2 separate regions of the Homo sapiens genome follow, and region 2 is linked to region 1. The links come from fine-mapping of genetic effects on gene expression. A gene starts in region 1. The other region holds a variant in brackets. All regions are shown on one strand. Distances are between the middles of the regions.

Evidence for each region. PIP is the estimated chance that this variant, and not a neighbour inherited with it, causes the effect.
Region 2: its variant is the best candidate, but not a certain one, in a credible set for the expression of LYRM9 in testis (GTEx, PIP 0.81).

Annotation. Positions count from the first base shown.
Region 1 is chr17:27,884,934-27,900,592 of GRCh38, reverse strand. It overlaps LYRM9 (LYR motif containing 9), which reads left to right and starts at 7,228. Exons shown (of 4, transcript NM_001076680.3): 1 at 7,228-7,276. RefSeq lists silencers at 7,047-7,596, 14,878-15,027 and enhancers at 10,607-11,558, 11,559-12,510.
Region 2 is chr17:27,913,790-27,929,448 of GRCh38, reverse strand. LINC01992 (long intergenic non-protein coding RNA 1992) reads left to right here. Exons shown (of 5, transcript NR_146896.1): 5 at 1-525. Among named protein-coding and RNA genes, the nearest start is that of LYRM9, 28 kb to the right of the region's middle. RefSeq lists an enhancer at 13,113-13,970 and a silencer at 15,044-15,357. The variant C/A (reference allele first, on the strand shown) is at 6,366.

The DNA of each region.
Region 1 (15,659 bases):
CTTTCATCTTTCCTGCCACCTCTTCCCTTATCCAGAAAAGTCTTTTTTTTTCTTTCTTTTTTTTTTCCTTGAGACAGAGTCTTGCTCTGTCACCCAGGCTGGAGTGCAATGGTGCGATCTTGGCTCACTGCAACCTCCGCTTCCTGGGTTCAAGTGATTCGCCTGCCTCAGCCTCCTGAGTAGCTGGGATTGCAGGTGTGCACCACCAAGCCCAGCTAATTTTTGTATTTTTAGTAGAGACGGGGTTTCACCATGTTGGCCAGGCTGGTCTCGAACTCCTGATCTCGTGATCTGCCAGCCTTGGCCTCTCAAGGTGCTAGGATTACAGGAGTGAGCTACTGTGCCCAGTCTCTTTTTCTTTTTTTGTTTTAAATTGAGGCAGGGTCTTCCTCTGTCACCCAGGTTGGAGTGCAGTGGTGCAATCACAGCTCACTGCAGCCTTGACTTCCTAGGTTCGAGTGATCCTCCCACCTCAGACTGCTGAGTAACTGGGACCACAGACATATGCCACCACGCCCAGCTAAATATTTTAATTTTTTGTAGAGACAAGAGTCCCACTTGGTTGCCCAGGCTGGTCTTGAACTCCTGGGCTGAAGTGATCCTTCTGTCTCAGCCCCGCAATGTGCCGGGATTACAGTCATGAACCACCTTGCCCAGCCAGAAAAGCCTTTAATTTTAACATTGAACAATGTATGGCAAGGAAGAGGTTAATCAGGTGACTAACTCACTTTACAACATTTTAAGGGACAGAAAATGAGCTATTACTTGTGACAACATGGAAGTCATTGAAAACCTTGTTAAGCAGTTTCAGTGGCACGAGATGGAAACCAACTGTATTGGCTGACGGGTAAATGGGGGAATGGTAAGTGAGAAATTAAGGCTTCCCTTGTAGACAACTCTAATGACGGCTTCTTGTCACTTAGATCTCAGTTTAAATGTCACCTCTTTGGAGTGATCTACAGTAGCCATCTGGTGAAGACCACATGACCACATTTTATTTCTCTGCAAAGCACTCACTTATGACCTGATCATGTCTTCTTTCTTTCTTTGTTTTCTCTGCTCCTAAGACACCACACATGCACACTGATCAAATGGGTTTTATTTATTCTGTCTCCCCAGAACCTAGAAAACTGCTTGGTACCTGGTAGGTGTTCGTTTTTTGAATGAAAGGATAAAATCTTGGCTATAAGGGAGAGTAGAGAAATAGAAATCTATCTGGTAGGGGATATGGAGCAATCTCATATGGGTGTGGGATGTGGATATGTGTGCTTTCTGTTAATTTGTTTTAATGGGAACCCCTAGCCCATTGCTTGTCTGACTTTGATGTGCCTGGGAACCATCTTGGGATCTTGCTAAATGCAGATTTTGATTCTGCAGGCCCAGGTGGGAGATTCTGCATTTCTAACAAGCTCCCAGGTGAGGCCCAGGCTGCTGATCCATGAATCCCATTTTGAGTAGCAAGTCCCTCGATCACATTGGTATGTTGCTTAGAATGAACAGGTGGAAAGGGGGTGATTAATGAAGCAGGAGAGAGGGGATAACTCTAGGAGCAAAGATTTGAGGAACACACAGGGATTGAATCCAGGGAACCAGCAGAAGGACCGTTTTTTTTTCTTTTTCTTTTTTTTTTGAGATGGAGTTTTGTTCTTGTTGCCCAGGCTGGAGTGCAATGGCGTGATCTCAGCTCACCGCACCCTCTGCCCACCTCAACCTCCACCCACTGCAACCTCCGCCTCCTGGGTTCAAGCGATTCTCCTGCCTCAGCCTGCCCAGTAGCTGGGATTAAAGGCATGCGCCACCATGCTCGGCTAATTTTGTATTTTTAGTAGAGATGGGGTTTCTCCATGTTGGTCAGGCAGGTCTCAAACTCCTGACCTGAGGTTATCTGCCTGCCTTGGCCTCCCAAAGTCCTGGGATTACAGGCATGAGCCACCGCGCCCAGCCAAGGACCGGTTTTTCAAAGGCAGAAGGAAACTTTCCACAGCATATCAGGAAAGAAGGGGAAGGAGTGAGAAGAAGATCTGATGATGTCTATCTTTCAGTGAGGTCCTCTGCTGAGACTGAGGGTGGAGGTGGGGTGTAGGAGTTCTGAGAAACAGAGTTATTTTCTTCCCAGGCAACATCCATTATGCCTTTGAGGATTGGATCATAAATTTAAAGTAAAACCCATCAGCTCTGTTGTGTAATTTTCTCAGCATTAATCTGCTTGGGTGCAGGTTGGAGAAGGAGGATGGTAGATTCATCCAGAGTGAGTGTGACAGAGGCCAAGAGGAACCAGGGAGTTGAGGGTGTTGGTAAGAGAGTGATTTTAATGGTGGACCACAGGAAGTGAGGCCTAGGCACTGGGTGGGATACTGCTACTCAGTCCCAGCTCTCACTCATGGGGCTCTAGTGCAGAGAGAGATATGACTGATATAATAACACAAATGCATATCTATCTACATGTACCCACACATATATATGTATGTATTATGTGTAAATGTCCATGTATATGTAACTACCACAACTGTCAGTGCCCCACCCTTTCGCCTTACCACTGCAGTATACCCGGCTGATTTCCAACTGCCAGCATCTGTATCTCTTTGCCTGAGATCATGGCAGGCTAGAAGTACCAGGGAGTTAGTGCCCCCGAGAGCACTGTGTGACCTGTAACAAACAGGAATTGGTGTATAAATACCCCAGGGTGGGATAACCAAGGTGTGGGTTCCACACTGTTTCCCCAGCAGGACGAAGCTCAGTGGTCCCTGGTGGTAACTTGCTTGGGAAGGCTCTCTTCACAGGCTGCCTTCTTTTCCTTGCCTCACTTCCCCGCTTCCTTCCTTCCTTTCTTTCTTTTCTTTTCTTTCTTTTTTTTTTTTATGATGGAGTTTCACTCTTGTCGCTCAGGCTGGAGTGTAAGGGCGCACTCACTACAACCTCCGCCTCCTGGGTTCAAACGATTCTCCTGACTCAGCCTCCTGAGTAGCTGGGATTACAAGCTATCACCACCATGCCTGGCTAGTTAATTTTTGTATTTTTAGGAGAGATGGGGCTCTCATCATGTTGACCAGGCTGGTCTTGAACTCCTGATCTCAGGAGATCCACCCACTTTGGCCTCCCAAAGTGCTGGGATTACAGGTGTGAGCCACTGTACCCAGCCTCACTTCCCTATTTTCTCACTTAGTGTTTTCTAGAACCACCTTTCAAATGAACTAGTTGTTCTCAAATCCTTGCTTTGGGGGCCTCTCTGGGGGGAGTCCAAATTGGGGTATATGTAACTATAAATTGTGATGCATGCCATGGAGAAAAGTACAGTCTACTCTTTGGGTGGGGGGACCTGCTCCATTATGGGGTGGGAATGTGGATGTCAGGGAAGGCGAGGAAGAGATCTATTAGCTGGGATCTAAAGGAGGAGCAGGGCAGAAGGACACGATACAATGAGTGTCTGAAAGGCCACTGTGGCTGCTACAGAGGACGGGGACATGGATGGAAGCTTAAGAGGCCAGACCCTGGAGGGCCTCATAGGACATGGTAAGGAGTTTGGCGTATGTATTCAGAGAACACGGAGAAGTCATTAAGGGGACTACAGCAGGACAGCGACAAGACTATACCTGTCTCTAACCATAGTGGAGAAGGACAGGAGAGCCCGCATGGCAGGGATAGAGTTCAGAGGCCTCCGCTATGACCCAGGGTCTTGCATGGAGTTTTGCACATGAAGGAGTCTCAACAGATGTTTGCTGAAGTGGAAGGTAACTATTAACCATGTAGTTGACTGACCAGAACACCCAATTTCCTGGCCAAGCCGATAAATGATTTCCCTTCATTAACGTTGCCTTTTTTTTTTTTTCTGGGCTGCTACACTTAAAACTCTATCATCCCTTTCTCTTGGGGACAGCATCAACAGGATAACTCCCTTCTACTTTTACTTATTCTCCACTTCCCTCCTTTTCACTTTCTTCTTTCTCTCCTTCTCCTCTTCACCCCTTTGTCTCTCCTCTTTCTTCAAATAATCCTATTTAATAAAGTTGATTATTTCTTACCGTCTCCATTCCTATTAATGGTGGCATGTAATTCTTGTCTCTGGACATCTCAAGACACTGCAGATATAGTCAGTGGAAACAGAATTACACTTTGTGAGCAAGGTAATTTTAAGTGGATCTTTAGTCAAATGCTGTCAAAATGCAAAAAAGAAGAATGTTCCCAAGCGCATTCACTCCTTTGGTAATATTGCCACATACACATCCAGCATGCACTTGAAATTTTTATGAAAAAGAAATTCCATTCCAAAGGTGATTCATACAAAACATTATGTGTATGTGTGTATGTTATTTACAATTTGAAATCATGAGACATAGAACATATTTTCAAGAGATAAAAAAAGTGGGGACATATTCAGAGATAACATACATCTGATCACCAATGTGGTTTCACATGTGGTCACTGTTAATAAATTACTACAGAACACACTAGAAACAGAGAATGACATATACCAGTCAGCAAAGTTGGATTTATGGTGCTGCAGAAAGTAACATAGTATGGAGGACCAGGAAGGCTGAAACCCAGCCCATAAATTAATCTCCAAGTGTATGTTGTAAATAGTCACAATTGTACCCTTTTTCCTCTTGTGTTCCCTTTTATAAAAATATTGAAATCCTTGCTCATCCCTTTCTTTTGCCCAGCAATTAAAGAAAAACAAACTAGATGTCTGAGATTTCACATAACCTTTCATACCCAATATTTTTATTGTCTTAAATCTTGAGTAGTCAGCAAGAGTTGTGTTTTGCAATACGCTGGGGTAAGGAAAATCTGTTCACCCCATTTTCCATTTTCGCCCCTGGTGTCCTCTTCTGGCATATTCACCCATCACCCCATGGCCCTCACCCTGTGTTCTGGCAGGATTTGAGACATGCAAATTGCAAGCTGGTAAATAGCAGCTTTGCATATTTTGAATAGAAGAGAACAACGTGGTACCACTCATTCTGTTCTCAGGGAAATCTGAGATAATAGGGAGCAAGATCGAGGGCAGACCGAGGGTCTTAAGTATTTTCTTAAAAGTGTTTATTATGCTTATTAAACCTATTGTACACTGATGAATTAATTTGAATTATTTACATGGTCACCCTTGGAGACAATAACCTGATTTAATCAGAGGATGCAAACGTTATCATTTCTCTTTGAAATCTAAAAACAGGTTTAAACTGGAAACGTCAGGACTTCTTGTATCTTTCCCTACAAATACTGGTTACAAATCTGCAGTTGTCAGGCTAAATGACATAATGTCAGAAATCAAGAGAATGTGGTGTATTTCTTAGGAAAGTCAATAAACTCCCCTGTGCGAACATGTCCCCTGGACAGTGGGTGACTAATTTCTCAAGTAAAAGGTCTTTCTATTTTGTTTATCTGTAAATATCATGCACTGTCTGACATAAGGGGGTTCATCTGCTAAAATTTCAGTGTATAGGAAAATGACATGGTAAAAATGGTTGGGGTTTTATCAGATTATGAGACTGGTGTCATTTTAAGTGAATGTTTGGACTAGTAAAAATTATTTCATTTTACTATTGAAGCTGTAAGAACCTAAGGTTGCTGTCAAGTTGAAAGGTTCAAATTCAATTATTTTCAAATCTAGGTTTCCATTGTGACTTGGAAAAAAAATTAGAGATTATTGTTCAAATCTCTCCTACTTTGGATTTTTTTTTCTTAGTATTTGGATGTTTATAAGAAATTGTTGTGAAAGTTAAAATCTTGTGCGTTTGTAAAATTGGAAGAGGCACAAGTGATTCTGAAGGTGGAGCCTTTCAGAGGTAAAGCAAACAGCTTGCATCTTCAATATTTTATGAGATCTAGGTATTAGAACCATGTTTCTGATGCAGGAATACAGCTATCTAGGAACAAAAGGGAGATGAGACTACAGAACAGACTGTGAAATTTCTTAAAATTATTAAATGATCCTAAGACTGAGCACAGGAGTGGATGATGTTACTGCAGATTGTTCTTAATAAGGGCTTTAAAAGCTTAATGATTTATTGATTGGCTCTGCATTAATGACGTGCCCTTGATTATGCATGTGTAAATAAGAGGGCTGATTTATGAGGGTACAATTGTATCTTTCAGATATATTTGTCCAAGTCTACATCTTTAAAATAAATGGAAGCAATTATCTGAATATTTCAAGGGAGGGAACCCCACCTTCCCATCCCCCACCCCCGATTTGAGGGAAGTCTAGTATGTTAGGTGAAGAGAAAAAAAAAGAAAAGAGGAAGCTCTAAAGGGAGTTAGGAACAAAACAAAACTTCCGTTAAGAAATATCCCTGCTTCTCTTATCCTAAGAGAAGAAAAACAGATTCCCAGGTGCCACCGGGGAGCAATGTTTTACTTAAAAAAAAAAAAAGAAAAAGGAAAAAGAAAAACCTGTAAGAAGTTGTCCTGTTAAATCAACGACACATGGAGTCTGAAGGAAATCAGCCTTTTCGTTACAAACAGGTTTAAAAAGCCCTGGAGAAGAGAGACGTGAACAGAAGCAATATTATCCACTAACAACCTAACTCCCGCTTAGACATCAGCTGAGAGATCAGCAGCATCATTGAACAGGGGGGTTTGTCTTAAGATAATGACTCATCTTGATTTCTTTCAGGATATAAAACTTGTATTTAAATCAATTCAGAGAAGCACTTGAGCTTTAAACATTAGAGAGCAGGGAGAGCCTATTTAATAAACAGCATTATTTCATTTTCAAAGAATGATACTGGCAGTAGCTCTAAGTTTAAATTTTGTATTATTTTCCTCAATTATAATTATAGATGGGTCTGAAAGGAAGCATGCTTATTACTGTCATATTTATTCTTTTGACAGGTGTTATGGGACTGTAATTTGGTGAAATGATTCAAAACGCAGATTCCTATCCAAACACAATTCTTGTCATCAACACGAGAGGTTCAGGAAAAGTCCTCCAGCAAGCCTTTCAGAGATCTTGAACACCCCATATTCATAGCACAATCCATATTCAGGAATAAGGAGGAGAGAGTGCCTTTAGGGCTTATATCCGGCGTAGCAACAGCCAGAAGGCAGAGTGGGTGTTTGAGGTAACAGGTAACGAAGGCTGTTAGTGGGGACAGCTTTCAACTGGGTGGGGTCGGATCTAGGAAGAGGCACCCAGTAGGACCCCGAGTCCCGCGCGCGGCCGGCAGAGGGCGCTGGGCTCACCGTCGCCGGGCAGGGGCGGTGCCGCTCAGTCCCCGGGGCGCAGGCGCACTCGTCGCCGCGGCGGCGTCCGGGGCTGGCGTTCCCCTGGAGGCTGGTGAGCCGCGCTGCGCAGGCCGAGGCCGAGGGCGGGGGCGCGGGGGCAGCGGCGGCCGGAGCCACTGGGTGGCGGGGGCGGGCTAGGGATGTGGAGGCCTCGGGTGTCCTCGGATCTATTGAAGACCTAGGGGCGACCCGCGCCGGCACCTTTTCCCTTGCGGTCTGCGCTCTTCCACCGGAGAGCTGAGTGCACCGGAGCGCGGCGCCCGGGCTTGACGCAGGCCTGGCCGGGCGGCCTCGGAGGAGCAGGAAAGGCCTGCAGCGCGAGCTAGGGGCGCGAGGTCCGGGGCAGCCCGGAGGCCAGCCTCTCAGAGGCTCACGGGCCTGGCCACTTTTAAAAGGAGAATGTCCCCTCCACCGTCCCTCTGCCCGCGGCACCCGGTGGCCGGAGCAACCTTGTCGTGATGATTTATGCTTCTGCGTAAGAGCAAGTTGCTCCGTGGCCAAAACCCTTTCGCTCCTAGGATTGATCCTTTTTGTGGTTATTGTTTTAAAAAGTTTTATTGAGATATAATTCACGAAGCATACAGTTCACCCATCTAAAGTGCACAATTCAGTGTCTTTTAGTGTGTTTGCAGAGTTGTGCAGCTGTCACCATAATGTTTTAGAACATTACCCCCCAAAAGAAACACCTCCTTTAGCTGTCACTCCCCCCTCCCATCTACTCCCATTCTCCCAGCCCTAGGCAACCACCAATGTACTTCTGTCTCTGTACTTTTGCCTATTCTGGATGTTTCGTATAAATGGAATCATACATTAAGTAGCCCCTTGTGACTGGGTTTGTTCACTTAGCGTAATGTTTTCTGGGTTCACCTGCCATAGGTTCTTGACTTCAGGACAGTTTCCTGCTGGCTTTAGTTTCCTCTGGTAACTTGGGAATCAATTGACATCTATGGAACTTCTGTTATGGTTCAGGTACTATAAACTGTGGAGGAGTGACTAATAACCGTATATATATTTTTCTTACTAATTTCCCTTCATTTCACAGGTGTTGAACTAATACAGTATAGTTTCTTGTTCTTCAGAAGCTTACAGTCAGCAAGGAACAGAAAGCCAAATAAAGTAGGAAAGGGTAAGATGTTCAACGCTGGGCGCAGTGGCTCATGCCCATAATCTCAGCACCGTAGGAGGCTGAGGAAAGAGGATCACTTGAGCCTAGAATTTTGAGACCAGCCTGGGCAACATAGTAAGACTTCGTTTCTATAAATAATTAAAAAAATTAGCCAGACGTGGTGGCGTGTGCCTGTGATCCCGGCCACTTGAGAGGCTGAGGTAGAATCGTTTGAGCCCGGGCAGTTGTGACTGCAGTGATCCCTGATCATGCTACTGTACTCCAGCCTGGGTGACAGAGTGAGACCCTGTCTCAGGACAAAAAAAAAAAAAAAAAGATGTTCAAGCACTTAAGATGTGCCAGCCCCTGTGCTAGGCACTTTCCATAAGTTAGCTAGGTTGGTCTTTACAAAACCCCTGTGAGGTGGGTTATTCTTTTCTCCAGTTTACAGTGGGGGAAGCAGAAGTCCAGAGAAGTCAACCAGGTTGGCCAGGATTACACAGCTAGTAGATAGCAGAGGTAGGCTTTTAAACTAGGGTTCTTTGTCTCCAAAACCTGCTCTAAGTTCTGTCACATCGATTATAATCACAATAAGTGATTACAGAGCAGTGTGATGACTGTAATAGGGGTGTGAACAGCATGGGATGAAAGCCTGAAGGAGGTGACAGGGAACTGGATCTCTAAGGATGAAGGGGAATTCTTGAGGCAGGTGAAGAAGTCAAGGTAGGGGAAAGCACAGCATGTTTCAGAGATGGTATTAACAATAACAGTTAGTAGGAAACATGTAGTGTGTGCCAGGCATCATGCTTAGTAGTCTAGGAGCGTTATTTCATCCTTACAACAGTCCTATGTAGGAAATACTATTTATTAGGGACCGCATTGACAGATGGGGAACAGACTTCGAGATAGAAGTTAAGAAACTCGTCCAGGGTCCTAGAACTAGCAGGTGATAGAACCAGGATTTGAACCCAGACTGTCTGATCCCAGAGTCCTCCAAGTTCAGTCTGTGGCTAAAATGCAGGAAGTGTGGGAAGGACAGCAGGAGGGGAGACTGATGAGAGGGATTGAAACAGATCTCAGAAGGCCATGGGTAGAGAACTCTCTACAGAGGTTCTGAGGAAGGGGAGTGACAGGGTGTGCTTTTTAGGAAGTGTTCTTGGGTGGCACCATGTGGATTGGGCTGGAAGGAGGGAGACAGATCAGGAGGTATTCGGATAGTCCCAGCCAGGTATGGGTACAAAGCTGGGAACCAAGGTAATGCCAACAGGGATGAAGGGGGCAGGGAGGGGGTGAGGGGACTTTAGAGCCTTGGCTATGTAGGAGAGGGACTGGGGGAGGCAGGGATTGCTGCCCCATTGCTAGCTTGGGAGAACACAGATGTGCAAGATGGAGCCCTGGAGTGGGTGGGGGTGGGAAGCAAAACCACTCCATTCCTATTTTTCAACTTTTCCCTTCAAGAAGAGTAATTGCATATTTAAAAAATGGCCTGTGCAGGCTTAATTTAGCGTGTATCAGTGCTCAATAGGGCATAATTTCTGGTTATTTTCTGCAGTTCCATTCTTTCGTCTTTTTTTAATATATGACTTTTTCCCACTTATTTTTAGGTGCCTATATCGGGACATAGATTAGGGAAAAGGACAGTGGGGTTAAATGGGACTGTGGGCCTGCTTCTCAACATCTGTGCCAGTGATAACACTTGGCTTCCAGGAAATTCCCTTTGTAGCTTTATTTTCTCTTTTTAAAAATTCTGTCATATTCTCCTTTGGATTTGGTAAGAGCTTTGTTGTTAAGCATTTCTTTAGTTGCTCCTTTCCTTTATCTGTGTAATTGATGTCAGCCTGGTGACTCTTTCTTTCTTTTGATTTTTTTTTTCCATCTATATGCAGGGGGAAGCTGCAGACGATGTCCTTGGGTTTCAGAAAGGCATGGAGCAAGGTTTTGTAGAGAAGATTGAGGAGTACTGGATAATAGTGCAGTCAAGTGCCTTTATAAGTGCTTGAACCTGGTCATGCATGAACCCTGCCAGAGTTCTTTGTGGGGTCCTTAGCCCTGATCTGGTCAGTATTTTTATGAGTGGCTCAGACATAGCAGGTAGATTCACGAAGCAGATAAGGGCATAGTCTTTGGAATCAAATAGACCTAGGTTCTATTCCGGGCCTTGCTCTATACTAGCCTTGTTGCTCTTGGCAAATTACTTAACCTCTCAGGGCCTCAGTTTCCTCATCTATAAAATGGGACTAATGATACCTCCCTTAAAATATTGTTGTGAGGATTAAATGAGGTAACATGAAAAGCTCTCAAACTTGGCATGTCCTACTCATTCCCTGGATGGGAGCCATCGGCTTTGCAGAAGGCTCTGGGTCAGAGAGCTAGGTACACCAGACTGTTCATCTCTGTGGTCCTAGGGCTGGGTCCAGAGTTGTACAGGTGCTAGATGCTCTGAATGGCATGGCGTAGTTGACTGATGCTTACAGTATATAGGGTTACTGTCTTTCTCTTTGTCTTTACCCTGTGTTTACCTGGGGTGTGACTGTTTCTGTGCTCTTATTTTGTTGAATTGAGTTGATATAACAGACCCCCCTAAGGATGGTGGCAGATTGTGACTCTGGAATGACCTCATAAAATAAAAGATGGGGAAAGAGACTTAAGAACAGCTCATGGAGCCGGGTGCAGTGGCTCACACCTATAATCACAGCACTTTGGGAGGCCAAGGCAGGTGGATCACCTGAGGTCAGGAGTTTGAGACTGGCCGACATGGCGAAACTCCGTCTCTACTAAAAATAGAAAAATTAGCCGGGCATCGTGGCATGGACATGTAATCCCAGCTACTGGGGAGGCTGAGGCAGGAGAATTGCTTGAACCCGGGAGGCAGAGGTTGCAGTGAGCCAAGATTGCGCCATTGCACTACAGCCTGGGGAACGAGAGCGAAATGCCGTCTCAAAAAAAAAAAAAGAAAAAAGAAAAAAAGAGCAGCACATGGAAAAATGCCTTTGAGCCAAATGCCAGGGCCACGTGAGGGCCCCAGCAGAGAAGCAGTCTGAGCTGCATTCCTTGAATTCCCAGGTCAAAGGAGGTGACAGGGCCACTGCCTGTGGAGTTGGTCAGAGCATGGCCAAACTGTTGTTTTCCCATGGGACAGCAGGTTTAAGAGTGGTATCAAAAATAAAGGTACGTGTGTTGAGAGGAGGGCAAGTGGGACAGAGACACTTTGAGAGGCGACAGCACCTCCCCGCTGCTTACATTGGAAAAGGGACTAGGGAGGGGCTGGGATAGTTGACTGTGAATAATGAAAAGCTGGGCTTGGGAGGAGGTGAGGGAAGATTTTGTCCCAAAGAGTAGAGCTCTTTGTGGAGTGAGTAGAACTTTACAGCGGGGAATTTTAACTCAGAACTGGAGGGACTTTCCAATAGCTTGAGCAGAGCGAAAATGGGGGACTTGTGAGTTTCCTGCCACTTGGAGCACATGTAGGGAGAAAAGCTGGGTGACTTCCTGCCAGGTGTGTTTTTAAAGCGATTTTTTATTAGGAAAATTTTCCAAATATATGGAAGTTAAAATAACAGCATGGTGTTCACCCTTAATGCCTACCATCTAAACGTGATCTGAACATTCTGCTGCATTTCTTCATCTTCCTCACTCTTCTCTCTGTGCTGTCTTTTGCTGAACTATTTGAAAGGAGGCTGCAGACCTGATGACATGTCACCTCTAAATCCTTCTGCCTGCGTCTCCTGAGAGTAAAGTGATTCTCCCACATAACCACATCGGTCTTATAACCCAAGAAAATTCATAATTCACACTATCGTTTCACATCCAGTGAAGATTTTCATTCAGGAAGTTGGTAAATCACTGTGACCACCATATGGAGAATGGCTGGTGGGGCCTGAGGGCAGGTGGATACCCTTCCAGCAACCCCAGCAAGAGCCTGAACTAGAGGCCTGACCTAGAGTAATGAGGGGTGATGAAGGCTGTTTCAAGGTAACCACAGGCCTCCCACTGAGCATGGTGGCACTGAGGAGGAGATGCCAGACCACAGAGCTGAGTGTGGAAGAGGCAGGAGGTATTCAGGAAGCAGAGAGGAGCACTGTAGGCAGAAGTAGGAGGATTCGTTCAAAATAGAAATTGAATGTCTACCAGGATAGTTAATTTTATGTGTCAACTTGGCTGGGCCACAGGAGGCCCAGGTATTTGGTCAAACATTATTCTGGGTGTTTCAATGCGGGTGAGATTAACATTTAAATTGTTCGATGGAGTAAAGCACACAGCCCTCTATAATATGGGTGAGCCTTTTCCAATCCATTGAAGGCCTTAAACGAAAAGTCTAAGCCTCCCCTGAGTAAGAGAATTCTCTTGCCTGTGGCTTTCAAACTGGGACATCAGCTCTTCCTGGTTCTACAGCAGCTTCCAGCCTTTGTGCTTGAACTGGGACATTGGCTCTGCAGATTTTGGACTTGCCAATCTCCATAATTGCATGAGCCAGTTCATGGTAATAAACCTCTGTCTCTCTCTGACACACACACACACACACACACACACACACACACACACACACACACCCTCCCTCCTATAGGTTCTGTTTCTCTGGAGAACCCCAATGAGTAAGTACATCTACTCCATGCCAGACATTCTGCCCCAGTGCTGAGACCATAACAGGCAAACACAGCATGGGCTGTTGTGGAGTGTGCCATACAGGGCTCAGTTTGCCTGGACTAGGCTGTGGGTGGTGAGAGGTGCAGATGAGGGGTAGGTAGGGGCCAGATCGAGAGGGGCCTTGCAGGCCATGGACAGGAGCCTGGATTTTATTCTGTAGACCAGTGCTTTCCACACTTCAGGACCCTCATGATTTTTGCCGGGTCCACATTTCAATTTGATACATAAAAAATCAGTTTTATGAGCATTTGAAAAAACTGCTTTAGGCCATTAATACCTATGAAAACGTGTTTTTCCCCCCTCATTACACATGAAAATAAATATAAAATCATTACAATAAAAAATACTGGCTGTATACTACTTAAAGTAATTTCAGGTATTTGTTCTACATTTTGGGAAAAGTTGCCATGAATGATGGGGGCAGGGGTGGATATTAGGGGTTTTAGGAAGGACAGGACACTTTGAGATTTATGTTTTAGAAAGATTCACTCTGGCTGTTGGGCAGAGAAGGATGGCAGAAAATGGACTGGAAGACAGGGAGACCAGCTAGGGGCTGTTGCAGTTGTCTCAGAGAGAGTCTGAACCAAGGGTATGCAGTGGAGTAGAGAGGAAGGGAAAAATATGAGGGGCATTCAGAGGTGGAATTTGATAGGAATTAGAAACCAGTGGCATGGGGCCGGGTGTGGTGGCTCACGCCTGTAATCCTAGCACTTTGGGAGGCCAAGGTGGGTGGATCACCTGAGGTCGGGAGTTTGAGACCAGCCTGACCAACAGGGAGAAACCCCATCTCTACTAAAAATACGAAAATTAGCTGGGTGTGGTGGCATGCACCTGTAATCCCAGCTACTCAGGAGGCTGAGGCAGGAGAATTGCTTAAACCCAGGAGGCGGAGGTTGCGGTCGAGATTGCGCCATTGCACTCCAGCCTGGGCAACAAGAGCGAAACTCTGTCTCAAAAAAAAAAAAATAAAAAAAGAAAAGAAAAGAAAGAAACCAGTGGCATGGGGATTGAGGAGAAGGAGGAACCTGGGTTGACTGTGATGATTTTGGTTTGGTTGCCTGGGAAGATGGAGGAGCCATCACAGAGGCAGGGAGCCAGGATGCAGAGGCCAAGATCAAGTCCAAAGGGCAGGGCAAGGGAGGCAAGTGTTGCCAGGCCCAGAGGCATTGACTGCAGTTTTAGCAATGATGCTGTGAGGTTCATTGCCCCTTAAATAATAGCAAACCTACGCTTTAAATTAAATTAAAACATTTTTAGTTTAGCTCTTCTAAGTGGACCCACACATGTATTCTCTACTAGTTATTACTGAGAATGACTAAGTATTATAATTGAGCTGAAAATAATCTGCCGCCCATACTTGCTGGGTTGGTTACTAAGTATTGCTTGAGTTTTTAAGTAATGAAACAAAGTTGTGCTCTTTCCAAATGTTAATTTTGAGGACTGCAGATGGTAACCATCTGTTCCGCGACTAGCATTTTACAATATTTGATTACTACTTTATATAGTTTGGGGAAGCCTGCCAGTGGAGTCTACCCATCAGGTTTGGGACTTTGGTGGTATGTCTCCTGTGGTTGCTCCTGATGGTCTTGGCCACCCTTGAACGGGTTCCCCTCTGATTTCTGGGTGGTGAGTCGGACTGGCATGGTCATGATTGATAGCAGGAGGAACTTGAGAAGCCCTGTCCTGTCCGACTCTGCCTTACAGCTGGAGTCATCAGATTGCATTGTGGAAGAATTTGTGAGGATCTGTCCATCAGTTAGTACCCTTTGAGATACAAGTGACAAAACAAACCCCAGCTGCTTTGGTGAAAGGGGATTAATTGGCCCAGATCATTGAGAAGTCTAGGGGAAGGACTTCCTTCAGGTAGATGGTTTTAGGGCCCAAATGAATTCTTTTTTTTTTTTTTTTTTTTTTTTTTGAGACAGAGTTTCACTTTGTGTCATCCGGGCTGAGTGCCGTGGTGTGATCACAGCTCACTGCAGTCGAGGCTGAAGTGATCCTCCCATCACAGCCTCTTGAGTAGCTGGGACTACAGGCGCATGCCACCATGCCCAGTTAATTTTTTATTTTTTGTAGAGACAGGGTCTCCCTGTGTTGCTCAGGTTGGTCTCAAACTCCTGGCTTCAAGCAATCCACCCATCGCAGCCTGCCAAAGTGCTGGGATTACAGGCGTGAGCCATCACCCCTGGCCCAAATACGTTATTTGGGCTTGTTTTTTTCTCAGGGTCTCAGCTCTGCCTTCTGCTATGTGGCTATGGTCTCAGGCTTCTAGAGGAGGCAAGGTGGCTTCACTGAGAGAGGATCAAATCCTCCCAGCATCAAGTTTAGTGGGAAGGAGCTAGAGTCCTTTCACGCCACTTCTGCAGAGGTGTTGCGATGCACTCTGGTTGGACTAGCTTTTGGCACGTGCCCGTGTGTGAGCTAGTCCTTATATCCATGTGGATGCAGGGCTCTGATAGTCCCACTCAGACCTTCTGGGCCAAGACCTGGGGAGGGGTGCACCCCAGATCACACATTGGGGCTGTTACTAGAAGGGAGAATAGATGGTGGGGGTCAGACAACCACCTATCCACTCCAGCATCAGAGCAAGAATCCAGGGAACCAGGAGGAATTGGCTAACGTAGCTGAGGAGACACATTTATTGTTGCCGAGGAGATAATGGGATGTAAATGGAATGAAGGAGCCT
Region 2 (15,659 bases), 29 kb before region 1:
GAGCTTTATCCTAAAAAAGCTGCTTCCAGGCCTGATATGTTCCCTGAAACATAAGGACATTCCTCATTCAAGGCTGTTTGCAAAGATCTAAATGAAGGCTGTTATTAAACAAACAAAACCCCAACCTCTCACTAATGTCAGAAATCAGAAAATGAATTATCTAAGTATTGTCTACTGACTAGCTAGCACTATGCAGGTATGAGTATCAGAGTTCTTCTCTGCTCTGTAAGCTATAATCCTCCAGGCTCTTTAGCCTAGGGGTAGAAAATGGAGTCCTCACCAGGCGCGGTGGCTCACGCCTGTAATCCCAGCACTTTGGGAGGCCTAGGTGGGCAGATCATGAGGTCAGGAGTTTGAAACCATCCTGGCCAATATGGTGAAACCCTGTCTCTACTAAAAATACAAAAATTAGCCAGGCGTAGTGGCGCCTGCTTGTAGTCCCAGCTACTCAGGAGGCTGAGGCAGAAGAATCGCTTCAACCCAGGAGGCAGAGGTTGCAGTTAGCGCAGATCCTGCAGCTGCACTCCAGCCTGGGTGACAAAAAAAAAAAAAAAAAAAAAAAAGCAGTTCTCTTACCAAGCAGTAGTTCTCTTCTTGCTTTGCTTCCACTTCCCCCTTTGTGATGAGAGTCCTTGGCAGTGGTGTTGATAGGTGTCCCCTAGTCTGGTCCTCTTATCCGTACCCTCAAGCCCTCCATCTCCAAATTCCTGCTCTAAGACTTCAGCTTGTCACCAGGTGCTTCCTGCTGATATCAGCAGAAGACGCATGGCTGCTGGTACCCGCCAGCATCCATGCTAAGGTGGCCAGTGCCCATTGCTGACAACTTTTCTATCTGTGCCAAGGGTACTGCTTCCAGTAGCAGCCAGCCCCATTTTGGAGTCATCACTGGTTGCGGTCTAAGCTTCTGGAACCCAGGCTGGGATATCTTAGGCAATAGCTTTGGTTGGCTTCCTTCAAAAGCCATTGCAGCCCACTTGGCCCAACTCACTTGATCCCCATTTAGACTTGGGACCTTCTAGGTTACCAGTTGAAGGACAGTCTTGAAGACAGACATTTGATGGTGCTCATATCATCCCTCAACCTCTTTGTCTTGGCACCAAACTGGGTTGCCTTATACAAAGGTGTTCAATATTTTGGCTTCCCTGGTCCACATTGGAAGAAGAAGAATTGCCTTGGGCCAAACATAAAATATACTACCACTAACAGTGACTTATGAGCTAAAAAAAAAAAAAAAATCACAAAAAACCTCATAATGTTTTAAGAAAGTTTATGAATTTGTGTTGGGCTGCATTCAAAGCCCTCCTGGCTGCATGTGGCCTGTGGGCTGTGGGTTGGACAAGCTTGCTCTGGAATAATCCAACTCTTATTTGCTGGGGGACTTTCAGCAAACAGCTTACCCATTCTAGATCTTATTTTCTTGTCTGTAAAATACAAATAATACTTGACTCATTGGGTGGTTTTGAAAATTAAATGAGATCAAATATTCCATGTGACAGGCATGGAGTAAATATTCGGTGAGCACAAGTTATTCCTAGGAAAGTCCTCAGCCCCTTAACCAGCTTTTGAAACACATCTAACTCCTAGAATCATTTTACTGTTTTTTACATATTTGTTTGCACTTATTGAGTGCCTTCTGTGAGGCAGAGATAGTGCCGAGTACCTGGCATTCATTATTTCATTTATTTCTCACAATGGCTCTGTGAGATAGGTACTACTAAAGCCTTGTGTTAAGGATGAGTAAGGTGAAATCCACTGAGATCAAGTGGACTTGCCCAAGGACATCCTTCTCTCAAGTGGTAAAGTTGGAGTTTGAACCCAGAAAAAAACAAACTCCAAAGCTTGTGACCTTGACCGCACTGATTGATATATTATCATTCCAAGGTGAAAATAGCTTAGTCTCAAGCTAGTCCCTTGTGGCAAGGTTCTTGTGTGTGTGTGTGTGTGTGTGTGTGTGTGTGTGTGTTTGGACAATTATTACTGGCAAAAATTCTGAAATGCCATAACCAAGAAATCCCCAAAGCCAGGGCTGCGGTCCTTTAGCTGTCTGGTGTGTTCTGTTTGTTTGTCCAGGAATGCTGGGACCCAGGTGCCTCTCTCATTCCCTGATTCAAGCTGGGAAAGGCATGTGGCCCTGGGAGAAAGGGTGTTTTTTCTTTATGCTTTCACAAGACTGGCCTGGGCCCTTCCCTTTTATATCAAAGGTACCACATCTTATTTTAAAAATTTTAAAAAACTTTATAGAGACACAATGTTGTTTTTGTTTATTAAATTGTCATGCTTTGATTTGTTTGTTTGTTTTGAGACAGGGTCTTACTCTTTTGCCCCGGCTGGAGTGCAGTGACACTATTAGGGCTCATGGCAGCTTGGAGCTCCTGGGCTCAAGCGATCCTCCTGCCTCAGCCTCTGGAGTTGCTGGGACTACAGATGAGTGCCACCATGCTTGGCTAATTTTTAAATTTTTTGTAGAGAAGGGGTCTCACGTGCCCAGGGCTGGTCTCGAACTCCTGGGCTCAACTGATCCTCTCACTTTGGCCTCCCAAAGTGCTGGAATTATAGGCATGAACCACCATGTCTGGGGAGTATTGTTTATTTTTGATACTTTTTTGTTTTGATATAATTTCTGACTTATAGAAAAGTTGCAAGAATAGTACCAGGCATTCCCATATAACCTGCTCTCAAATTCACCAATTGTTCACATTTTGTCCCATTTGTTTTCTCTTTTTCACTCACTTGCTCTCTCTGCATTTTTTCTAAGCCATTAAAAAGTTAGTTGATGCCTGTAGTTCCAACTACTCGGGAGGCTGAGGGAGGAGTCTCACTTAAGCCCAGGAGTTTGAGCCCAGGCTGGGACACATAGTGAGACCCCATCTCTTAAAAAAAAAAGCAAGTTGAAGCCATCATGCCCCCTTATTCCCAAATACTTCAGTGTATGTTTCCTAAGGACAACCATATAACCATAGTAGTTATCAAAATCAAAAAAATTTTACACTTGATACTAGACTATTACCTAATGTATAGTTCATATTTAATTATTTTTTCAATTATCACAATAATGCCCATTACAGATGTTTTCTGGGTCCAAAAACCACTTCAGGAATACATACTGTTTTAAATTATCAGGTTTCTTTAATTTTCTTTAATCTGGAACAGTTTCTCAGCCTTTCTTTGTTTCTTTTTTTAGACAGAGCCTCACCCTGTTGCCCAGGCTGGAGTGCAATGGTGCAATCTCAGCTCATTGCAACCTCTGCCTCCTGGGTTCAGGTGATTCTCCTGCCTCAGCCTCCTAAGTAGCTGGGATTACAGGTGCCTGCCACCACGCCCAGCTAATTTTTTGTATCTTTAGTAGAGACAGGGTTTCACCATGTTGGCCAGGCTAGTCTCGAACTCCTGACCTCAAGATCCGCCCGCCTCAGCCTCCCAAAGTGCTGGGATTACAGGCGTGAGCCACTGCACCTGGCCCTCTTTGTGTTTTTTTTATCTTGACATTTTGAAGATTAAGACCAGTTATATGGTATAATGTACCTAAATTTGGACTTGTCTATTATTTTCTCATGATAAAATTCAGGTTCTGTATTTTTGACAGAAATACCACTGAAATGATACTGTGTCCTTCCCAGTACATCCTATCAGTGGACACAGGATGTCAGTTTGCTCTAGTATTGGTGAGATTAGCTTTGGTTTCTTGCTTTTTCTCTACTATAAAGTTACTGTTTTGGGCTGGGCACAGTGGTTCATGCCTGTAATCTCAGCACTTTGGGAGGCTGAAGTGGGAGGATCACTTGAGTCCAGGAGTTCAAGACCAGTCTGAGCAACAAAGTGAGACTTCGTCTCTACAGAAAAATTTAAAATTGGCTGGACATGGTGGTGTGCACCTTTAGTCCTAGCTACTGAGGAGTCTGAGGTGGGAGGATCTCTTGAGCCTAGGAGTTCAAGGCTGCAGTGAACCATGATCATGGCACTGCATTCCAGCCTGGGCGACAGAGCAAGACTGTCTCAAAAAATAAATAAATAAAGTTACCATTTTTCCCTTGTAATTCATACATAATTTGTGATAGTCTTTTTTTGTTTCAACTTTTTCTTCTGTGCCAAAATGTCCACAGCAGCTCTAACATTAGACCTAAAGCAGGAACTGAGCTGGTTCTAAAAGAAAATCCCAGTCTCCTCCTCAGCCAAATGTCTTCTTTCTCTCCTTTATTTTCTCAGTGGTTTTTTTTTTTTTTTTTTTTTTTTTTTTTTTTTGAGACGGAGTTTCTCTCTGTCACGCAGGCTGGAGTACAGCGGCATGATCTCAGCTTACTGCAACCTCCGCCTCCTGGGTTGAAGCAATTCTCCTGCCTCAGTCTCCTAAGTAGTTGAGATTACAGGCGCCCACCACCATGCCCGGCTAATTTTCTGTATTTTTAGTAGAGATGGGGTTTTGCCATGTTGGCCAGGCTAGTCTCAAACGCCTGACCTCGGCCGGGTTCGGTGGCTCACGCCTGTAATCCCAGCAGTTTGGGAAGCCGAGGCGGGCGGATCACCTGAGGTCGGGAGTTCAAGACCAGCCTGACCAACATGGAGAAACCCCGTCTCTACTAAAAATACAAAATTAGCTGGGGTGGTGGCACATGCCTGTAATCCTAGCTACTCAGGAGGCTGAGGCAGGAGAATCGCTTGAACCCGGGAGGCGGAGGTTGCGGTGAGCCGAGATCGCGCCATTACACTCCAGCCTGGGCAAGAAGAGCGAAACTCCGTCTCAAAAAAACAAAAAGAAAAACAAAAACAATTAAAAAAACGCCTGACCTCAAGTGATCCACCTGCCTCGGCCTCCCAGAATGCTGGAATTACAGGCGTGAGCCACTGTGCCTGGCCTATTTTCTCACCTTTTAATTGAAGTATTATATACACACATCTTTTTTTTCTCTCTGAGACGGAGTTTCACTCTTGTTGCCCAGGCTGAATTGCAATGGTGCAACCTTGGCTCACTGCAACCTCTGCCTCTAGAGTTCAAGTGATTCTCCTGCCTCAGCCTCCCGAGTAGCTGGGATTACAGGCAAGTGCCACCATGCCCAGCTAATTTTTGTATTTTTAGTAGAGACGGGGTTTCTCCATGTTGGCCAGGCTGGTCTCAAACTCCTGACCTCAGGTGATCCACCCGCCTTAGCCTCGCAAAGTGCTGGGATTACAGGCATGAGCCACCGTGCCCAGCCATACACACATCTTATGTTTATACAAATCTTAAGTGTACAGCTTAAAGAATTTCTACATAGGTATATACCCCTGGAACCACCACCCAAATCCAAGATACAGAGTATTTCCAGCTTCCTAGCTGAGTTCGTTGTGTACAAAAATTAGCTGGGTGTGGTGGTGCACACCTGTAGTCCCAACCTCACTCAAGAGGCTAAGGCAGGAGAATCACTTGAACCCTGGAGATGGAGGTTGCAGTGAGCCGAGATTATGCCACTGCACTCCAGCCTGGGTGACAGAGTGAGACCTGCCTCAAAAATATAAATGAATAAATAAATAAATAAATAAATAAATAAATAAATAAATAAAGCTGTCCGGGCACAGTGGCTCATACCTGTAATCCTAGCACTTTGAGAGGCTGAGGTGTGCGGGTCGCTTTAGGTCAGGAGTTCAAAACCAGTCTGGCCAACATGGTGAAATCCCATCTCTACTAAAAATACAAAAAAATTAGCCATGCGTGGTGGCGGGTGCCTGTAATCCCAGCTACTCAGGAGGCTGAGGCAGGAGAATCACTTGAACCCGGGAGGTGGAAGTTGCAGTGAGCCGAGATCGTGCCATTGCCCTCCAGCCTGGGTGACAGAGCAAGACTCTGTCTCAATAAATAAATAAATAAATAAATAAATAAATAAATAAATAAATAAAGCTACTATCAACATTTTTTCTACATTTTTTTGCACACAAGTACTCATTTCTGTTGCATATCCAGGATGAAATTACTGGGTCCCCGTCCTCTCCTTCACTGACGAACTTCTTGAAAGAATGGCCTATCCTCTTACTGTTGCCACATCCTCATTTTCCATGGATTTCTCATCAAATTGTGCCTGGCTTCTGTCTTCCACTCCCTTCCTGTTGACATTGCTCCTGCTCTTGCCATTAATGAACTCCCTCTGGCTAAATCCAGGGATCCTTTTGGATTCCACTCCATTGGACCCATCGGCAGCATTTGATAATGCTGACTTCTTTGACTTCTGCACCATGACTCTTGTTGGGTTTACCCCACCTCTCTTCTTGCTCCTCATCAGTCTCATTTGGAAACTCTTTATTCTATGCCTGCCTATTAAATGTTGGTGTTCTCAGGGTCTAGTAGCACAGGGAAACTTCTCATTCTACATTAAAGGCCTCACATTAGTGGCCTACAC[C/A]AGACCTGTTTTGCTTGGCCCCCATAGTGTTTAAATAACGTTTACTATGAAAGTCTTTCAAGAAGGCAGATATTATTTTGAATTCTCACTGCACTAACCACCACTCTTTATAGTTCTGATTTGAGCTACTTCACTCATCTGAATTATTTTCTTGGTCCCTGAAAGCAACTTAGTTTGCAAACTTTTCTCTAATGTTTTCCTCCAGTGATGTCATTCTATTCCACAGGCTCAATTGCACATTGCTGACCCCTTCCAGATTCAAATCTTTAGTTTCCTCCTTTCTCTGATGCTCCAGACCTATATTTTTAACCCTTTGCTGGACATCTCCATTTGGACATTTCATGGACTTCTCACATGCATCATGTCCACATGAACTCACCATCTTTCCCTCCAGGCCTGGCCCTTTCCTGCACTCACTGTTGTGGTGAATGGCATCCCTATCCCTGCAGGCTCTCAAGCTTGGTGTCAGCCTCCATTCCCTTACCTTCTATATCTAATAGGTCATCTGATATCACTGCTTCCCTCCCCTATATATTTTCCCAATTGATCTCTTCTTCTCCATTGCTATTGCCATTGTCTTAATTTCTCTTCTTCTCTTGCTTGGATCATTCTTCATTCCACAAATATTTATCAAGTGCCTACTATGTGTTGGGCAATGTTCTAGGCACCAGGGTGAGAACAAGAGGCATAAAATTAACACGTCAACAAATACATACCCAAGAGAGCTTTAGGTAGTCATCAGTGTTGAAGACTAACTGGGCAGGGGGTTGAGAACAGGGCTATCTGAGATTGGGTAGTCAGAAAAGGCTTCTTGGAGGAGGTGATTTTTGAGCTGACACTTGAATAACATTGACAAGGAGTGAGCCCCTCAGAGGTCTAAGTGCAGAGTTCTCCAGGAAGGGGAAAAGCAGGCACACGAGACTGAAGGCAGGAGAGAACTCAGAGCGTTTGAAGGACAGCGAGATGGCCGTTGTGGCTGGAGCAGAGGGAGTGAAGGGAGAGGTAGAGCAGGGGCCAGATCACAGAGGTTGCACAGAACCTCACAGTCCATAGGAAGTGTTTTGCATTTTTATTCTTGGAAAGTTTTGAGCAAGGACGTGATCTGCCCTGATTGATATTATCAAAGGACACTCAGGGCCGGGCATGGAGACTCATGCCTGTAATTCCAGCACTTTGGGAGGCCAAGGCAGGAAGATTGCTTGAGCTCAGGAGTTCAAGACCAGCCTGGGCAATATAGTGAGAGCCTGTCTCTACTCTATTTTCATATAAATAAATAAATAAATAAATAAATAAATAAATAATTTACAAAGACCACTCAGGCTGCCGTGTGAAGAATCAACAGTAGGAGGTCAGAGAGATAGGCTGGAAATGTTTTAGACTGTCACAGCCAAAGTCAAACATTCAAGTGCAAGTAATTTATTGGGAAACACCAGTAAAGACATAGGAAAGTGGGACAGGGAAGGAAAAGCAGCCATTAAGACATGCATTATCAAGCAAGTTACCACTGTGGTCAACTGTAGCTTAGTTTTCCTGGGGAACCTTGAAGGCCCATGTAGAAATGTTCCTTCAATTGACCTTGTCCTAGGGATGAGGAAGGTGGGGTATTTACAGCAACTCCTTCAGTCATTGGCTGGGGGCTGCTGCTGGGGCAGCTAGAGGGGCTGTGAATTCTCCTGCATCCTGCTGTGTGAAGAGGGGGTGGGGTCCCGTCACCACAGAAAGCCCACAGGCAGAGAGATATAGACATGGCCTGCAGTGGGAAGGCCTGGGAGAGGTGGTGAGCATGGCAGAGGGTACTGCAGCCATCTGGGCACACGGCACCTTGCCTGGGTGCATGGGAGGCAGGTGGTGCATGGAGAGGCAATCAGTGCCGAAGCATGTGTTCGTCGGGGCCACAGCAGCCATTTGTGAGGCCATCCCTTTAGAATCCCTCTGGATGCCTGGAAGTGACTGGAAGGTGGGGCAGGAGTATCTGCAGGGGCCTTGTGGCTCTGAAGGAGTTGACAGGGATAAGAACCAATGAATGAAATGTGTGTGACGATTATTCATACGCTGCATTTTTTTTCCCATCTTCAGGCCTGGGAGTTGCATTTTGATTCTGTTCCTCTCTGTGACTGGCCTGTCTGTCATGCTCAGACCACACCATCATACCCAGTATGGATTTCTGAACACAGACTCCAATTCACCTCCCCAACTTCTGACCTTAGCTCAGTCCTCTGAACCCAAAGTCCCATGTGTGTCCCTGCAGACACCCCATTTCTCTATCATCTGACCCAGTCGTGACCTGCTAGCACATTGCCCTGTCTGCCTCATCTTGCCAGCCTGGCATAACTCCCAGAAAGGCTGCCCTTGGCTTGTCCTATTTTCTTTCTCTCCCTAATTTGACACTGACATTGACAGATAAAGACAAGGGAGACAGCCAAACCCCAGGGCGTAACCGGTAGATATCACTCAAACACTACCAAATTAATCCTCAGGATCTGGGATCATGCCTGTCTGAAATGTTAATCTCCACCACTTGGTACAGAATAGAGAATGACTTTTGAAATTGCCTTGTAGAGGAGCCATTGCCCAACCAGAAGATCCCAATCTCTAGACCCGGGGGCCCCGTTTCTGGGGAGGATAGAAAAAATTTGATATCAAGAAGGAGCAAGGAAAGATGGAAGGAAAACATCAAGCTCTAGCAAGTTTAGATTTGTGTACATCACAGTTTTACCCTAGCATGCATGGCCCATGGCCTGTTTGAGATGTTCCTTATTACAAGAGGAAGTCACACCTGGGGGTGTCTTCCTATATGTTTATGATCCCATACCTGTTACATTGGAATTATTTTCCACCCAAATAAAAGCAGTCACAGTTAGAAATTCCTTGACTCTTAATTTTATTTTATTAATTTTTTATTTTTTAATTTTTTTTTCACTTTTCAAGACGGGGTCTCACTCTGTTGTTGCCCAGGCTGGAGTACAGTGGTGCAATCATGGCTCACTACAGCCTCGACCTCCTGAGCTCAAGCAATCCTCCCACCTCAGCCTTCCCAGTAGCTGGGACTACAGGCAAGTGCCACCATGCCCGGCTAATTTTTGTATTCTTTTTATTTTATTTTTTTTGAGACAGAGTTTTGCTGTTGTACAGGATGGAGTGCAGTGGCGTGATCTTGGGTCACTGCAACCTCCACCTCCCAGGTTCAAGCGATTCTCCTGCCTCAGCCTCCTGAGTAGCTGGGATTAGCCAGGCGCCCGCCACTGTGCCTGGCTAATTTTTGTATTTTTAGTAGAGACAGGGTTTCATTATGTTGGCCAAGCTGGTCTCAACTCCTGAGCTCAGGTGATCCACCTGCCTCAGCCTCCCAAAGTGCTGGGATTACAGGCGTGAGCCACCGTGCCCTGCCTAATTTTTGCATTTTTTGTAGAGATGAGGTTTTGCCATGTTGTCCAGGCTGGTCTCAAACTCCTGGACTCAAGTGATCAGCCTGCCTTGGCCTCCCAAAGTGCTAGGATTATAGGCATGAGCCACTGCACCTGGCCGGATTTTAAACATTATCATGGCACTCTATTTTACTGAATATTAAATTTCCAGCATGGTTTTGAAAAGGAAAAAAGAACACCTGCTGTGGGAGAGGATTCCCGCTAACTGCAAACTGATATGGGAGCTGCCTGAATGCTGTTAGGTGGCCGTAGTGTAAGTAGGATTTGGGGGCCCCTAAGAGAGCTAGTGGACACAAGGGGGCATCCCTGGAGTTCTGGACTTGACCAAAATTGGGCAACTTCCCACTTGCTGGCTGCCTGCCCTGAGCAGTAATGACTGGCCTTGGGAGAAGCACCCGTGGTCTTACGGCCTCCTTTTATTCTCATGTATTTTTCTAACAAGCCTTGTCTAAACGCAAATGTGATTCCAGCTTTTTGATTAGAATATTATATAGTCATCCATTCCAGGAAAACCACAATTAGCACATGATTTTATTTCTGACTTGCTGTTTCTTTGTTTGGAAAGTTCGTTAGTTGTACGACGCTCCTGATAGAAGTGCGTAGAAGCAGCCATTCTTTGTGTGTGGGGAGGGACCTCCGCCAAGTTTTCTTAGATGGAAAGGTGTTGGCTTTTTCTTATCATGGGGAGATGGTGGAGTAGAGGGGGGAGTGTGGTGGGGGTGTGATATTCTACCCTAAAATATTTTTCAAAAATATACTGGCAACTAAATCTGGCCATGTTTGTGGGATTGGGTGGAGTTTTCCTTAAAGTGATAGGGCAGGGCACACTTTATCTCAAGGTTTTAACTGGAGTTGACACTTGGGAAGACATTCTCTTGGGTAATACATGCTGCAGAGACCACTCATGGGCAGCCTGATTCAGAGAGGCAGTTACTTGCCTACTGGCATACCACAGGCTGGCTGTGTGACCTTCGGCAATTTACTTAACCTCTCTGGATCACTATTTCCTCATCTAAATAAGATTACCTAACTCTTAGGGTAGTTGGGGGATTAAATAAAATCAGTAAATATCAGTTAATATTTATAAAGTGCTTAGGATAGAGCCTGGTTTCCAGCACATTGCATGAATGCTATTATATTATCCTTTCCTGCCTCTGCTAACAGAAAATGCCTTTCTAACAAACGCTTGTTAGAAAAGAGTCTACTGCCTATTGCGTTCCTATAAATGGCAGGCACTGTGCTAAGTACTTTATAAGCATTTAGCTTGTTTAATACTCAAGGATACAAAGTAGTGTTATGATCTCTGTGACGGTTAGTTTTCTTAGTCAACTCTGTTAGGCTATAGTACCTAGTTATGTAATCAAACATGAATCTAGGTGTTGCTGTGAAAGCATTTTGTAGACATGGTTACCATCTACAAGTCAGTTGACTTCAAGTAAAAGATTTCAGATTTACTGGCCCCCTCAATCATGTAAGCCAATTACTTAAAACATATCTTTTATTTTAAAAATGTGGGCCGGGAGTGGTGGCTCATGCCTGTAATCCCAGCACTTTGGGAGGCCGAGGCAGACGGATCACAAGGTCAAGAGATCGAGACCATCCTTGGCAACAAGGTGAAACCCCGTCTCTACTAAAAATACAAAAATCAGCTGGGCGTGGTGTAGCGCACCTGTAGTCCCAGCTACTCAGGAGGCTGACGCAGGAGAATCGCTTGAGCCTGGGAGATGCAGGTTGCAGTGAGCCGAGATTGCGCCATTGCATTCTAGCCTGGCAAAAGAGCGAGACTCCATCTCAAAAAAAAAAAAATGTTTGTATGTGTGTATGTGTGTGTGTGTACACTTATGAGGAAACTGATGATCAGAGAAACTAAGTAATTGCACAAGGTCATACAGCAGGATTTTGAATCCGGGGCTCTGTCATTACAAAGCCTGGTTTCCACCGTGGGATCTGTCTCTCTTGTAACATTTCAGTTGCAGCTGAAGGGACCTCGATTTCAGCCTGTTTATGGAGCATGTGCTGCTTTCTCACTTCAAACTCTATAGAAGTGCAATTCCTCTGACCATGTGGTCTGTTCTGTATTCTGGTGGCATTTGGAGGAAAGCCTGGAGTGAGGAGCAGGGGAGAAAGGAAGGGAAGGAATAAGAATTTTATCAGTGGGGTTTTTGGTTGCAAGCAACAGAAATGGACTCTCACCGACTTATAACCAAAGGAAAAGATTAGAAGAATATTGTTGATGTGGGGCAGCTCACAGCAAAAAGCACTCTGTGGGCTGCCCCTGTCTATACTAGGACAGGGAGAGAGGAGCTGGGCTTATCCAGGGAGAGGTGCTAGGAGTTACCAACTGCAGAAAATGAGGGAGGCTTTATTTCCCAAAAGGAAATTGGGATGCTGTTCTTTTTTCTTTGAGACAGGGTCTTGCTCTGTTGCCCAGGCTGGAGTGTAATAGCACAAACCCCACTCACTGCAGTCTTGCCTTCCTGGGCTCAAGCAATCCTCCTGCCTCAGCCTCTAGTGCAGTTGGGACCATAGGTGTTCACCACCACATCAGGTGATATGGTTTGGCTCTGTGTCCCCACCCAAATCTCCTCTCTAATTGCAGTCCACACGTGTTGAGGGAGGGACCTGTCATCCCTATACATCCCTATATATGGAGGGAGGGGAGTGATTGGATTATGGGGATGGTTTCCCCCATGACAGTGAGTGAGTTCTCATGAGATCTGATGGTTTTATAAGGGGCTCTTCCCCCTTCCTCCTCACTCTTCTTTCTCCTGCCACCTTGTGAGGAAGGATTTTTTTGCTTCCCCCTCCACCATGATTGTAAGTTTCCTTAGGCCTCCCCAGTCATGTGAAACTGTGAGTCAATTAAACCTCTTTTCCTTTATAAATTACCCAGTCTCAGGTAGTATGTCTTCATAGCAGTGTGAAAACAGACTAATACACCAAGCCATTTTTTTTTTTTTTTTTTTTTTTTTTGTAGAGACGAGATCTCACTATGTTGCCCAGTTTGGTCTTGAACTCCATGGCTCAAGTAATCCTCCTGCCTCAGCTTCCAAAAATGCTGGGATGACAGGCATAAGCCAACATGCCCAGCCTGGGATACTATTTTGAAGGGAAATGGATGCTTGACAAATGCCAAAATGATAAATGACCACTATCACAGTAAAGATTCTTGGTTTGGATCCCATTTTGCAAAATAATTCAGAACAGGCCCATGACCAGTACCCAGAAATGGCACTTAGGACTTGTGAGGCCATATGGAGCACATCTCTCAGCTTTAGCTTAAGATTTTTGGCTGTAGGCAAAGACTCCTTTTATGCAAACATTCCCATGTGAAACATAAATAGCCATCATAATAACGAATCTCCATTGAACACTGGCTGTATGCTGGGCACTGTTATAAGTGCATGGCTGGATGCTCGTCTCGTTTTTCCACCAACTCCATGACGTAGGTACAATTTTCACCACCATGCTATGTATGAGAACACTGAGGGCCATGGAGGTTAACTTGGTTAACTCACTCATCCACATGGCCAGTGAATGGCAAGCAGTACACAATGATGTCTTTTTACAATTCGAATTCTAGAATGTTAAATAGCACTGGGGACTGTCTATAATCGCAAACAGCAAAGGTCCTAGAGGCAAGCCTTCCTCCTAGCTGGAGAGCTCGCAGAGTCTGATGCTAGCTTGATAAAGATTCTGCCTTGATGTCTGATCTGAGGTGTTCAATTCCATTTTCTTAATGGCTGTCAATCAGTTCCCCACTGTGTCCCCTGAGGCTGGACCCAGCAGGGGTGTCGTCAGCACTTAGGAATATCATTAAGAACAAAGCCTGATTCGGGCTGTTTGTTTTTCCCCAGTGAGATTGCCCACCCCTCAACACAGTCAGGAATGAGCTCAGATGTCGCTCAGTGCTAAATGAATTGCTTCTGAAAGCACTGGGCTTTCCCGAGGCACCCGAGTCTACCAGAGCGAACAGAAATGACATATGAGTTCCAATGTCTGCAATCACTTTTGCTTCCAGGTGCTTCACCGGCAATGTCTGATGGAAATATAATGTAAACTGCCTTTGTCATTTTAAATTCCTAGGAACCATATTTTTAAGAAGGTGAAATTAATTAAAAACCTTTTTTTTTGAGACAGTCTTGCTGTGTTGCCCAGGCTGGACTGGAACCCCTGGGCCCAAGTGATTCTCCTGCCCTAACCTCCCGAGTAGCTGGGACTACAGGTGTGCACCACCACGGCCGGTGCTAATTTAAAAAAATATATTTAGCCAGGTGCGGTGGCTCACGCCTGTAATCCCAGCACTTTGGGAGGCTGAGGCAGGCGGATCATGAGGTCAGGAGTTCAAGACCAGCCTGGGCAATATGGTGAAACCCCATCTCTACTAAAAAATACAAAAATTAGCCAGGCATGGTGGCACACGCCTGTAGTCCCAGCTACTCAGGAGGCTGAGGCAGGAGAATTGCTGGAACCCAGGATGTGGAGGTTGCAGTAAGCCGAGATTGTGCCATTGCTCTCCAGCCTGGGTGACAGAGTGAGACTCCATCTCAAAAAAATAAATAAATAAAATAAGAAATATATTTAATTTAACACAATAATCCAAATATTACCATTTCAACATGTAATCTACATAAAAATTTATTTGGGCCAGCCGCTGTGGCTCATGCCTGTAATCTCAGCACTTTGAGAGGCCCAGGCAGGCAGATTGCTTGAGCTCAGGAGTTCAAGACCAGTTTGAACATCATAGTGAGACCTCATCTCTACAACAAATACAAAAATTAGCTGGGCTTAATGGTGCACACCTGTGGTCCCAGGTACTTAGGAGGCTAAGGCAAGAGGATTGCTTGAGCCTAGGAGGTTGAGGCTATAGTTGAGGCCATCCAGGGATGGCACCACTGCACTCCAGCCTGGGCGAAAGAGTGAGACTCTGTCTCAAAAAAACAATTTTTTTTTAATTAAAGAGGTACTTTACATTCTTTTTGTCATAGGAAGTCTTTGAAATCCAGTATGCACCAAGCACACAGCTCGGTCTGGAGTGGCCCCCTGTGGGACAGTGCAGCTCTAGACTGTCACACTTTCAACAACTTTATTCCTCGCACCAATGACTGGGGAGCTGAGTAGGCAGGGGCCAGGTTGCCTACTCTGCGTTTTGGATTTTGGCCCAAACGTGGAGAAAAGCCACTGACCCATTTTAAACAGGACAGTAGCGGGATCTGACCGCAGTTTTAAGATGATGGCTCTGACTGGTAACAGGATAAGTAAGTTGGGCCAGTAGGGGACTCTTTTCCCTCCTCCTCTCCTAACTCCACCATAAACACATAGAAATGACTTTCATTTTAAAAACTAAACTAGGCCGGGTGCGGTGGCTCACGCCTGTAATCCCAACACTTTGGGAGGCCGAGGCAGGTGGATCACCTGAGGTCGGGAGTTTGAGACCAGCCCGACCAACATGGAGAAACCCCATCTCTATTAAAAAATACAAAATTAGCCAGGCGTGCTGGCACATGCCTGTAATCCCAGCTACTCCGGAGGCTGAGGCAGGCAAATCGCTTGAACCCGGGAGGCGGAGGTTGCGGTGAGCCGAGATCAGGCCATTGCAATCCAGCCTGGGCAACAAGAATGAAACTCCACCTCAGAAACAAACAAACAAACAAACAAACAACACTAAACTAAACTAAATCAAACAGTGGGTCTGAGTTTCACATAAAGAAAGGCAAATAATCCTGAGGCAGAGATTAGGAGAGGTTAAAGACAGAGCAGAAAGATCCCAAGTGGATTCTGTGGCTGCTGAGAGGTGGGAGTGGGGTGGGGGGAGTTCCAGAATACAAACCCTAATGGCTTGGGGCTGGAGTTTTCATGCCTGGGCTGG